Homo sapiens: one gene and its partner. The protein of the gene in region 1 interacts with the protein of each later gene in a pairwise test. Each region holds a gene or a part of one and is shown on either strand. Other genes may lie near its edges.

Region 1 (3,495 bases):
TGGCAGGGATTTGGTTCAAAGATGATCGTGGATTGGACTAGAGAGGTGAACATTAAGGAAACATTTTCAAAGAGCTTGTGGGTCTTGATGGATTAAATATCGAGTGTTAGAAAAGAAGGATGACTTGATTTGGGTTTTGGGCAACTTTAACAATGATGGTGTCAATTACTAAAAAACTAAAAGAGAATAATCTGAGGCACAAACCGTGAGTTCTTTTTGGAGTGCATGCCGTGTTAAGGAAAGCATCTAAGTGGACTGTTTTTGGGAACTCAAAGAGATCAGGGCTGGAGATAATCGGGATGTAAAGTAGCACATGAAGGGGTTTTTAGAGCCAAGAGCCTGGATGAGATCTTCTAGACAGGCTGCACTTTAGGGCACTATCAAAGGTCGTGATCAGGAAAAGGAGGGTACCGCAAATTAGAGCAGGACCTAAAGAATCCCAATTTTACGTCATAATTTTCACTAAAATGTTTCAGAGACTATTGAAACACACCGACTGATTAAAATCTCAGCAGTAATCTGTATTTTAAATTTCCTTACTCAAATGCAAATTATGCATTCTAAGACTTTCAAAACACAGTTCTGAAATAACTGCACAATATAGTCAAAACATATTTATTACTTTTCAGTGTCATTTTGTACACTCCCGTACAAATACAAGAATATAGCCATATTTACAGGTATTGAAAAGAAATCTGTATATTCAAACCCAACATCTAAATACAGTAGCTGGAAGTCCTGAACTACAATAGTTCCGGTGCGCAGAGTGAATTATTTCCCGCGTTGCCCTCTCCCCTTTCAAACAGTCCCTCAAAGATATGGTGGTTTTTGAACATAATAAACTGTTTTTGGAAATGGGTAACAATTCCTGGCAAAGTTTTAAGAACCTCCTTCCCAAGATTTTACAAGTGTGAAACAAAGATTTAGAAGAAAAATAAAACTACTAATTTGGACTGTTAAAAGAAGCATAATGTCTTGAAACAGGGCTGAAGCATGTTTTTAGTCTGGAATTGCAGTCATTTTAAAATCAGGTTAGACAAGTTAGAAAAATAAAAAGCGTAGGAAAGCTGGTTCTTCAGGGGAGTCTGTAACCTTCTTTCATCAAATATATTGTTACAATACCACGACATTTTAAAAGTTTGAATAGAGACTACTGATCTTTTAAAACGGGGGGGGGGGGGGGGGGGCAGGGGGAGGGAAAGGCCACTCAAGTTCCCTAGAGGCTATTCAGTACTTCTATTTTCAAAGTATCTAAACCAAGGTACATGTTCAAATCCATAACCAACTAGATAAGGAATACTCTAGTCCAGAACATTATGCTTATTTTAATAGATATTCCCTAGTTAAGGTTAGGAGCTGGATACCTTGTATTAAGGTGCAATATTTAAAATATTTCCACAAAATTTTAGATTTTCTGTGTTTAAAAATTCACTACTGGCCAGGAGCGGTGGCTCACGCCTGTAATCCCAGCACTTTGGGAGGCCAAGGCAGGCAGATCACCTGAAGTTGGCAGTTCAAGACCAGCCTGACCAACATGGAGAAACCCCATCTCTACTAAAAATACAAAATTAGCCAGGCGTGGTGGTGCATGCCTGTAATCCCAGCTACTCGGAACGCCGAGGCAGGAGAATCGCTTGAACCCAGGAGGCAGAGGTTGCGGTGAGCCGAGATCGTGCCATTGCACTCCAGCCTGGGCAACAAGAGTGAAACTCTGTCTCAAGAAAAAAAAAAATTCACTATTAAGAAATACCAAATTAGGCATCTTCTCCTAAATATATGTGACTAATTCATTTAGGGATGTAAACTTTTTTGAAAAACAAAACATAGGTACACAGACCAGTAGACTATAAGCAAATCAAATTCAAATTTACCTAAATCACAAATTGCCATCTGATCAGGAAACATTTGCCTATTACAACAAATTGCTCACTTCTTTCCAGGAAAGATACAGTAAGGTTTCTAGCTGAACACACAGCTCTTTGGGGTTTCATTTACATGCACTAGTTAAATTCAGCAGATGTTAACAATCTCACAGAGGTATAAACATGACAATAAATTAATGACATGTCTTTTCTTACATTTAAAAAGTATCCTTAAATTACAGGAAAATATCTTCAAGATTTTAATTCCTTTTAATTACACTGGAACATTTTTGTATTTTAGAAAACACCAACACTATCGCTTACAGTTAACTTTTTGAGCTTACTGAAAAGCCTGAACATTTAACTTCCATACTTTCAATATATGCTTAAAGCACAAGAGCAATTTCAAAATTTATGTTAGCATCCGAGAATGTAGTAACATTGACATTGATGTCTAACATAAAAAATAAGCCCTTGGTGCTGCCAGTTTTGGAAGCACTTATCTGCCCCAACAGAAAAAAAAAAAAAAAAAAAATCACCAAAAAACCCTAAACCAATTTAAAGAAAAAAAAGAAGAAGAAGAAGAAACACCTTTCTAAATCAGATGGCAAGATTTTGATGGTAAAGGTTTTTTTGTGGGGGAAGAAAAGATTTTTTTCATGCGGAAACCCTTGTGATTTGATACATTACTGGCAGTGTGAAGCTAAGGCTATGTGACTAATATTTCAGCAAAGGAAAAAAAAAGTCAAGGTAATTTTATAGTAGCAATAGTTTCTTTTTTTATTTTAATATACTTTAGGAAACAATATACAAAGCTGCGCTTTCCTGCTATTTCCAGATAACAGCAGGAAGCTCCAATTACACAAATTTAGCGTTTTGTGATGGCTAAGAACAGCAGTCAGCACCAGACTTGAACAGTTAGCTACAACACAAACATCCTTCCAAATGAAATGTCATAATAGCAAGACAGGTAAACCAGGGTTTAACAAATGACAACCACTTGGGAAGTGACTTAATCATTCTTGTTGAATTTCTTATTTCATTAAATATCTCATACACAATTTCCTGTTAATACGTTTTAAACAAAACCTCCCTTAAGGAATTATTTCAATTAAGTATAAATATTCAACAAGAACAGTTCTGATAAAGAATCCCCAGGTAGTTCAAATGCTAATGTGCACTGACCGAAGGAAAAGAAAAATAACAATTTTTGTTTGTTTTAACATGTTTATTACAACAGATACAATTCACATCTGACTAGCTCTGTTTCCTCTTTCCCCTCCCACAACCACGTTCATTGGGCCATTTCCTTATATTTGAGCAATCAATGTACTTTGAGCACACATGCCTGTCCAGCAGTACTTTTAAGTCCATTCTTAACAGGGTGCAAATGGATTTCAATAATTTATACAAACAAGTAGGTTATGCTCAATCACTGCAATTTTAAGCTACTGTACACAGGAATGAAAAGGTTATAGAAAAGTGCCATAGCAACAGTGCCTTAAGAAAGGAGATAAAGAGGAGCCTTAAAAAAATGGATAAAATCAGAATTTCAGAAGGAAATGGAAACACACGGGAAATGAAAAACATTTCTCTGCAAAACAAATGGAGAAGCACTGCTCTTGATCAGGTG
Region 2 (9,464 bases), about 94 Mb from region 1:
CCAGCCTGGCCAACATGGTGAAGCCCCGTCTCTACTAAAATTACAAAAAAAAAAAAAAAAAGAGCCAGGTTTGGTGGTGGGCACCTGTAATCCCAGCTACTCAGAGGCTGAGGCAAGAGATTCACTTGAACCCAGGAGGTGGAGGTTGCAGTGAGCCAAGATTGTGCCACTGCACTCCAGCCTGGGTGACAGAGTGGGATTCCATCTCAAAAAAAATAAAATAAAATAAAAAATAAACCATCGGTAGATTGGATTACTTTTTAAGGTTTTTTTTTTTAATAATGTTCTTTTTTCCCCACTCTTTTTTTTTTTTTTTTTTTTTTTTTGAGATGGGGTCTCAATTGTTGCCCAAGCTAGTCTCGAACTCCTGGGCTCAAGGGATCCTTCTGCTTCAGCCTCCTGAGTAGCTGGGATTACATGCATGTGCCAGGATGCTGGGCTCCTTTTGAGATTTTTAGGCTAAATCATCCATTGTGTCCACTGTAGAAATGCCTACTAACACTTGTGTGGCTTTATGACCCCAAGGAGATCAAAGGTCAAGATTGACCCCAAAGTGGGGAAGGATGTACCAGGTACTATCTGCCACGTAGTTGGCCAGATATCTGCCAGATAGTTGGCCACTATCTGGCCAACTTGCTTATAATGGGTATTGCAACTCAGAATGCAGTTCCTATAGGGGTGGGCGGAATGTTTCTGTTAAGAGGCACTTCCTTTGTGTGGTTGCCACTATAACTGTAGCTCTTATATAGCTCAGCGTCAAAACGCTGTCATGGTCCTTCATGGGCTAGCACAAGGGTCTGCAAACTTTTTCTGTAAAGGGCTCCATAGGAAATATTTTAGGCTTTGCAGTACATATGGTCTCTGTTGAAGCTACTCAACTCTGCTGTTCCAGCACAAAAGCCACCATAGATGTCATAAACCAAATTACAGTGGACACTGAAATTTGAATTTCATACAAATTTAACATGTCACAAAATACTATTCTTATTTCAGGATTTTTTCAACCATTTAAATGTTCTCATAAGTGGGAACTAAGCTACGAGGACACAAAGGCATAAGAATGATACAATGGACTCTGGGGACTCAAGGGGAAAGGCTGGGACAGGGATGAGGGATAAAAGACTACAAATTGGGTTCAGTGTACACTGCTTGGGTGATGGGTGCACCAAAACCTCACAAATCACCACCAAAGAACTTACTCATGTAACCAAATACCACCTGTTCCCCCAAAAACCTATGAAAATAAAAAATAAGTAAAAATAAAAATAAAATGCAAAAACTATTCTTAGCCCACAGCTCCATATAAAAGCAGGCAGTGGGCCAGATCCAGCCCCCAAGGCACATTTGCTGGTCCCTGGTCTCGCACTTTTCTCTGGATATTCCGCCAATACAGGTAACAAACCCTGATGGATGGTTGAGCTACTTCTTGTCATGTTACTTTGATATCACTTGGGTTATTTTTCTGGAGGTGTTGACAGGTATGGGCCTAATTGTCAGAGACATTCTGGAAGACTCCAGGAAGAGAAGGGTCCTGAAGCCTAGAAAAGGACCACCAAGTGAGGGCTTGGGGACACTGTTCCTGAAACCCTCTCTCTGGCCAGCCGGGCCATCTCAGAGACTCATTACGAGTCTGCTATTGCTCTGTCCATCTGGAGGGTCCTCGTGGAGCAAGGACTTTTGAAGACAGAAGGCACCCTCCTATGGATGAGTCCCGAGCCGAGCCAGGTCGGAAGGCCTGGCCAGCAGGAATGACAAGCAACGTCCGACCACGTCTGTCAAGGATCAACATAATCATCTGAGCCAGTAGAAAAGGAACAGCGCTCCCTCTTCCTGCTACCCCCACAGGAACAACAAGAATATTGGGAAAAGAGAAAACGACTCCAACTCACGCTTCTGCTGGGGTATCAGGAATTACTTCAATTATATACGCTCCTGAGATCACGTCTGGGAAGTCCCGGTGCCGGTCCTTCAGCTCTTTGGCTTTGCTGCTCCAGAGAAAAAGCACCCGTGTTAGTGTGAAGAAACACCAGGCCTTCCTCACGCAAAACTCAGCTCTCACCAGTTCCCGTCTTCTCCTTAGGTCTAAGGTAAAATTCCTCCAGGAATTCTGATCCTATTTTAAAATTAAAATTGCCTGTCTACCAGAGTCAAAGATTTACTTGGTAACAGCAAGGAAAGTGCTTTATTATTTATTTATTTTTTTTATTTATTTTTTTTTTTTTGAGACAGAGTCTTGCTCTGTCGCCCAGGCTGGAGTGCAGTGGTACGATCTCAGTTCACTGCAACCTACATATCCCGGGTTCAAGCAATTCTCCTGCCTCAGCCACCCGAGTAGCTGGGATTACAGGTGCCTGCCACCAAGCCCGGCTAATTTTTTATATTTTTAGTAGAAACAGGGTTTCACAAATTGGCCAGGCTGGTCTCGAACTCCTGGCCTCAAGTGATCTGCCCGCCTTGGCCTCCCAAAGTGCTGGGATTACAGATGTGAGCCACCGCACCCAGCCATCATCATTGTTATTATTTCTTAATTAATAGTAGCTATTACTAAGGAGTCAGTAAAGTACAGTGGTTGGCCTGGTTTGCAGCCCTAGCTCGGCCATTTGCTAGCTGTGTGACCTCGGACAGTTGCTTAACTTCTCTGTGCCTTCATTTCCTCACCTGCAAAATGGGGATAATAACAGTACCCTACAACATGAGTTGTGAGGATCAGATGAGATCATCCCAGTAAGGCACCTGGCCCAGTACGTGTGATACATAGTGGCTGGCATCACTGTGGCTGGTGACCCCTGCCACCACTCCCTGATCTGAGCCTGGCCACACATCAGAAGCACCTGCGCTGTCATCCCTATCCTGAAGAGGAGGAAACTGAGGCACTCAGGGGTCATATCGTTCCCAAGGTCACAAGGCAGGACATATCAGAGCAGGGACAGGAACCCAGGAAGCTGGGCACCAAGGGCTTACCATCTTTCCCTACACCTCGTAGTTCCAAAGGCAAACAACTGAGGGGACACTTTAACCTTGACAAATGGCTCCATCTTCTGGAGTGCTAAGAAAGGGACCACCATTCATAACATGTATCAAAATATATTAATACTTTCACAGTGAGTGAATCATTAATTCATCATAGTAATGAACACATTAATCTATCTGTTACTATATTCTAGTCTTTACCTACTTTACCTCTGACAGTTTTAGCCATGCCAGGTGAGTCTACTACCAGGACTCATGAGATTACACCAGAATTTTTCATCCAGTTTAGAACACCAGGATGCCATGAGCCTGCCAACCACAGGCCGCAATTCCACCAGCTCGGGGAAAACAAGCACATCAGTCATTCACTTCCCTGCGCTGGACCTGCCCTGGCATTCCTGGAGCCGCGGCCCACGAGCTGCAGAGCAACGAAAGCAGAGTGCCTAGAGCTGCGGGAGGGGCTTGGGGCCCTCCTGGAATGTGGGTTTCAACAGAATGTGGGGTAAGGAAGACGTGAGCCAGAGTGAATCAACAGCCCCACCACGCACACACTGTTCAGGCCTGCCTTCAAAGAGGAGGGCAGAACCTTCTACACCGGAGGGCCTGCTGCCAGTGAAGAAAACCAGCTCAGAATGCAAAAACACAGGTTAAAACCAAACAAAGGGGCCAAGGCTAATGACCTGTCCTCTTTCCCGATGCTACTTCATTATAAGCAGAAACTGAGACGTCTTAAGGCAGCATAAGGTTTCTCTTTCAGGGGTGCCCGTGAGCACCTTCTGAAGTTCAGGTTTATTAAAATTTAAGACACAGACACGCATCCTGTTTACCCACCTGGACGTGAGTGACATCATTCGGATACCAATATACTTCTTCTTGGTGATGGCTTTTCCTGGTGAGACAACAAAGGGACAGCAGAAGGTCAGCCCAGTTGGTGGGGGTGCTGGGGACACCAGGGGCCGGGGGCCCAATCCCCCAGGTTGCAGGAAGGGCCACAGAAGGGTACACTGAGGTTGCGGCTCAAATCCTGGTCTGGACCCCTCCCCTCTGGGGGACCTTGGGAAAGTCCCATTGTTTCAATTAATGGTCAGGTACCTGGGCATGACCCTTAATTCCTCATGGCCTCATCCTGACAGCTGGCCCTTCCCCAAGCTTGCTCTACCCCCCATATATATCTGGAATGTGACCCCTCTGTCCCACCTCCACTGCCACCACCCTTGTCTGAGACCCCAGCATGTCTCATCCAGATGGCTGGGAGAGCCCCTTAACCGGTCCCCAACTTCCAGCAACCCCTCCAGCAGACTCCCCGCAGCCATCAGAGTGTCCTTTCAGTGACATCAATCAGATCATAAACTTCCCTGTTCTTAAATGTCGTTAGGATGCAACCCAGGTCCCTCACCACGGCCTGCTGTGAGCCTGCTCGCCCGGCCTTGGCCTCTTTCCACCCCGGGGAACTCCATGCTGTCACTGTGCTCCGGCCCTCAGGCCACTTCAGGGGCCTTGTGCTCACTCAACTATGCTGAGTCCTCTGTCTTTCCTTCTGGAGTGTTCCCCCCACATCCCTGCCCGCTGGTTCCTCCTCACTCAGACCTCAGCTTGGAAGGCATTTCCTGGCCACACCATCTCCACCAGCTGCCCCTCCAGTCGCTCCCTTGACGGCCACCCTGATCCGTTTTCTTGGGAGCACTAATAGTATCTTATGTGTTTGATTATTTACTGTCAGCCTTCCCATCCCCCAACAGAACATAAAAGTCACACCGGCAAAGGCCCCTGTTGAGCCCCAGGCCCCAGTTGAGCTGTCCACTGCCAAGCTCCCTGCTTGACTTAGAGCAGATGGGGCAATAAACGTTTGCAGAATGATCTCCCTGAACCGTTTTCTCATCAGCAAAATGGGACTAGTAATTCCTAACTGATAGGGCAAAAGAATTAAGTGACATACATAAAGAAAGTGAAATAATGTACACAAGTCACCTAGGATCATGCCTGGTACATATTAGACTGACTCAAGTGACATTGCCATGATCAGAGGACAAAAATGGTGAAATGTCTGTGACCTTCTGCGAGGGATTTAGTAATGTGCATTCCCGTTCACTTCTGGATCAGAGACGGCTTGGCTAGTCCTAGGGGCTGCCGCTTTTCCCTTCCCCAAGTCCCAAAGGGCAGCTGAGCTTCAGGCCCCATCTCCGGAGTCCCCAGGGCTGTGTGGGCCTTGCCTACCTTTGGCCTGTCGGTCATGGGACTCCGTGAGGAACTTTTTAATCTTATCAGATGGGATTGCAAAGGAGATTCCAGCTGTCACTTTCAAAGTGTTAATTCCAATCACTTCACCGTCCTGAAAAGCAAGAAGGACACGGCTTACTGAATCGTGAAGCTTTACCGGCAGGTACACACCCAGAGAGAATATGCCTGAAAGAAGTCCCTGAGCTATTTCAGAGATCGAAGTGGGGAGATGCAAGGAGGGGATCCCCGTGGCAGCAGGGAGAGAGGCATCAGGACACCCAGGCAGCGCGAGCCACGCGCAGCTGTGGAAGAATCGCACATACTCCAGGTCGGCACTGGGTGCTCACCTCACGGTAAGCACAGATAGTTTCAAAATGCACGATATGATTTGCTCCTGTTTCACAAGGAATACGTTTCCAAAGGCTCAAACTCCTTTAGGTGGCTGCCCACACCTTCCTGCTTCTCCCATGTCTAATGATCTTAAGATGACTCTGCTGACTTCAGGGGGAAACAACCCTAGAGCTTAGGGCTGTCATGCTTCATTACCAGCAAAGCCATCTCCACTCCATCCCCAAGTGCTGCGCGGGGAGGCAGAGGACAGAGCTGGGAGCACAGCTGCCCCTCTGCTGGGAAGAGAAAGCTGCCAAGTGCACACTTCCCAGGAGTGCTGAGATGTCAGTACCTGATGCCAAGGCACCATCTAGGAGGTGCCATCACACTGGGCCTTGCTAAAGACAGCCCCTATAAATGGCCCCAGAGCTGCCCTCTATAAATGGCCCCAGAGCTGCCCTCTATAAATGGCCCCAGAGCTGCCCTCTAGCTCTGCTGGTCTGTGTTCTAAGGCTTCACTTTTTCTGCTCAAGTATTTAAGGGAAGACTTAAGTGATATCTTTGTGGGTGGGTAACTCCTCCTCATTCCAGCCAGGCCTTAAGGGAGGATTCCTGGCCAAGAGAAAATGTGTATGAGCCCAGCCAGCTCCTTCAGCAGCCCAGGAGATTTAATTTGGAGGAGGTGCTTTCGGTGACTGGCCAGCATTTTTAGTGACCTTCACCTTACTCCTGCATTGGCCCTGAATTTCACGGTGTTTACCTGTAACTCTGAGACACAAGTGTGTTCTCTGGCATAACATTTCCAACCCTCACCTCCGGCCTGCCTTACTCTTTCCAGAAAAGATCCGTAGGGTCATTTGCAAGCACGCAGTACATTTACAGAGCCATTTTAAAGGAATTTATAATACACTTTGGCAACCTTATGTTTGAAAAGACCCCCTGCCTCAAAAACAAACAAACAACAAACAAACAAACAAAAAACAGCGTATACATAGATAAAAACAAATGACCTAACATAGGTTTAAAAGACCTTACCAGGTTTACTAACGGGCCTCCCGAGTTTCCATACTGCAATTAAACAGAAATGAAAAGGTTACAAATCGTGTCATAACATGGTTCAATCTATGTCCCTGCCTGGTCGTTTCCTGAGCACGGTGCCTAGAGTGGGGGGCACGATTCTTCTCTGAGATTCATTCCCATTAACCTAATATTTTGCCGGAAAAAAATGACCTTAACAATTTTCAGAAAGTTTTAGAGGTGCCGTAAACAGGGAGATTTTCTCTCTGAAGCCCAGAAGCCAACTGCAATCACCCTAAAGCACCCAATACAACTTCTTCCTCCTGGGAGGAGGCTGGCTGTCCACCTGCTCCGGTGTCACCGTCCCCGCCATGTGACCCCTGCCATGCTGCTGGCACTAGAATCCACATGGCTTGGTCTAGTTCCATCCCTTCACGCAGACTACAACAAAGTCAGGGGCTAAGACCTATGCTGACTCCTCTCCCCCTGGCAAAACTCTGCCCCAATCCCCACCCGCAGAGGGACAGAGGCTCACGTTGATGATGGCGTCGGTCTGGATGTAGTCCATGTCTGAGTTGCGGAGCCCCAGCTCTTTGCCGCCTCGCTGGGTGGTGCTCACGATCCCGGTGGTGACTGTGTTTTGAAGGGAAAACGGGCTTCCGATGGCGACCACGAACTCTCCCGGCCGCAGCTCTGAGGAGCGGCCAAGCAGCAGGACAGGCAGCTTGCCCTGAAACCACAATGGCTGGCGTTGCTGAGTTGGTTTAATTTAACCAAATAGGTAAAGGCACAGATATCATGGAAAACCAAGCAGGGACAGTGACGGGCTATTTGGAAACACCAGGCCCGGTGGGGAACTGAGCTCACAACTAACATCCCTTTGCTGCGGGCAGGACTGGATTTCCCTCCCACCCGTAATCCACACATTGCAAGCCGTGCGGGAGCCAGTGAACACTGAAGCCACACACACACCAAGGAAACCGTGGGGAGGTAACTGGAGGCCAAGTCGGGGTCTCATCACATCTTGAAGCTATCAGCACAGACTCACTCTGAAACCTTGAGGCCAAGAGACAGAGGAAGACAACATGAATTTAGGGTTTGGGGTGAGACTGCTGGGGATGGCCCTAGAGAACCAAGCCCCAGGGAAGGATCCCAAGCTACAGGCAGTGAAACCTGCCCCGACTCATCATGTGCACATCCGTCCTGAGGCCTGGAATATTTGGGGTGCTCTGCGGGCAGGGAACTGTACTGACTCAGGTGCACGCCTATGCTGAGTACAGGGCCACACTGGTCAGGGGCAGGGATGGAGCATGGGGACAGCAAGACCGAATAGGTAGGCTGTCTCTCCTCTCCTGAAACGGCCCTCTGTCAGCCACCTGTGCTTCCTGGTCTGGGCAGGCTAATTGGCCAACTCCAGAAGCCCTGATCTCCAGCGTCCCACAAAGGCCAGGCAAAGCCAGGAGTCTCAAACAACTCTGCACAACAAAATGGAACAGAAGCCAGCTCCAGGGTCACCCAGGCCAAGGAGCTGGGGGGAACCACAGAAGGGCCTCCCTAGCTCTATCAGGGAAGGCATCGGGGCCCTTTCCCTCTCTGCCTTCCTCGGAGCCGAGCAGACCTCCCGAGTTCCTTCAGCCTTTATTCACTTAGAACGAGCAGCTGCCCTGAACAACATGGACCAGGCCCAGAAATCAGACAGCCACCCCAGCCCTCGTGGGAACTGCAACTCCAGAGCCTCACATTCGTCTATCTCAACAAAGAAAGAGCCAGGGGACCAGTGGGGTGGGGCAGGTGGAACCCAGGGGTTACTTGAGTCATCTCCTCCACCAGGGATGGAGCAGACACTAGCTGATGAGGTGGGGTGACCACCATGCCCATTTAACAGATGAGGAAACTGAGGGTCCAAGATTCTGGGTGACTCGAGACAGAGCAGGGTTTGAAACCTGGGACTGGGATCGGAAAAACAGACTCTCTCATCCACTACACAGTGCCACGCCACACCACAAATATCCCCCAACACACACCAAATAAGGAAGGTGCTGGGTGAGAAAGCTCACGAAGGGAGAAAGGGATATGAAGACAGAGTCCAAGACCTAAAACTGACTATACGAGACTGAGGAGGAGGAAGGTCCCTCAGATCACAGATACCAAGAGGACCAGGAGAGCACTGTCCATGGTCAAGAGCACACACCTGGGGCCAGGCTGCGTGATTTAGATGAGGGCCTGAGCTTATGACCACTCAGGTCCTCAGTTTTCTCATCTGGAAAATGGGACTAACGTACAGCTACCTCAATGGTCCACTGTGAGAATGAAGCAACTTAAGATCTGAACAGCTCTTTGAATACCCGCTGGCTCCTGTAAGCACCATCTAGGTGTTGGTTTTGCTGTGAGCATCTGGGCCTGTGCAAATCCAACAGCGGGAACCACCAAACACCTTTCCACAGCCAGCCCGTGTCACCCAGCCATGGTAAAGGTCTGCCCTGACAGTGGGTGACCCTTTCCCTGTGTGGCTGCCTGAGGCTGGAGCATGCAGGGCAGCTGCGGGGAGGTGCAGGCCTGCCGCATCTCTACTCAGCCCCATGCTCACTTCCCACACTCCTCAAGCTCATCAGCATCCAGCAGCACACCAGCGAGCTCAGCGCAGTGTGTTTACTCTGGGCCTGGGCCAGCAGCCCCTGCCAGGCATGACTTCAGCACTCATGGCGTGCAGGCGGGGCAGGAGGCAGGGCTGGGATGTGCACTAGGCCACACCAGGGGAGGTCCACCAGGGACACTGCCATCCCTTCAGGCCCTGGACTGGCTGGAAGACCAGGCCTTTGAGGCCTTCAGGGCTGGGCTTGCGACAGGTAAAGGGATGGGGTGGCACAGGTTAATGGAGCGGGGTGGCCTGGCTGCCCAAGGAGATAGACAGGAGGCAGGAGGTCAAACTC

What was found. The genes of interacting proteins can lie anywhere in the genome.
Region 2: the proteins of WAC (region 1) and HTRA1 interact in a two-hybrid assay, tested with the Homo sapiens proteins (one study listed by IntAct).

The regions. Positions count from the first base shown.
Region 1 is NC_000010.11:28,620,118-28,623,612, reverse strand, and holds the end of WAC (WW domain-containing adapter protein with coiled-coil), read right to left. Parts: 3' UTR 501-3,495; downstream 1-500.
Region 2 is NC_000010.11:122,504,491-122,513,954, reverse strand, and holds part of HTRA1 (serine protease HTRA1 precursor), read right to left. Parts: intron 7,265-9,464; coding exon 7,070-7,264; intron 6,586-7,069; coding exon 6,553-6,585; intron 5,300-6,552; coding exon 5,185-5,299; intron 3,860-5,184; coding exon 3,802-3,859; intron 1,986-3,801; coding exon 1,890-1,985; intron 1-1,889. UniProt on the Homo sapiens protein: Serine protease with a variety of targets, including extracellular matrix proteins such as fibronectin. HTRA1-generated fibronectin fragments further induce synovial cells to up-regulate MMP1 and MMP3 production.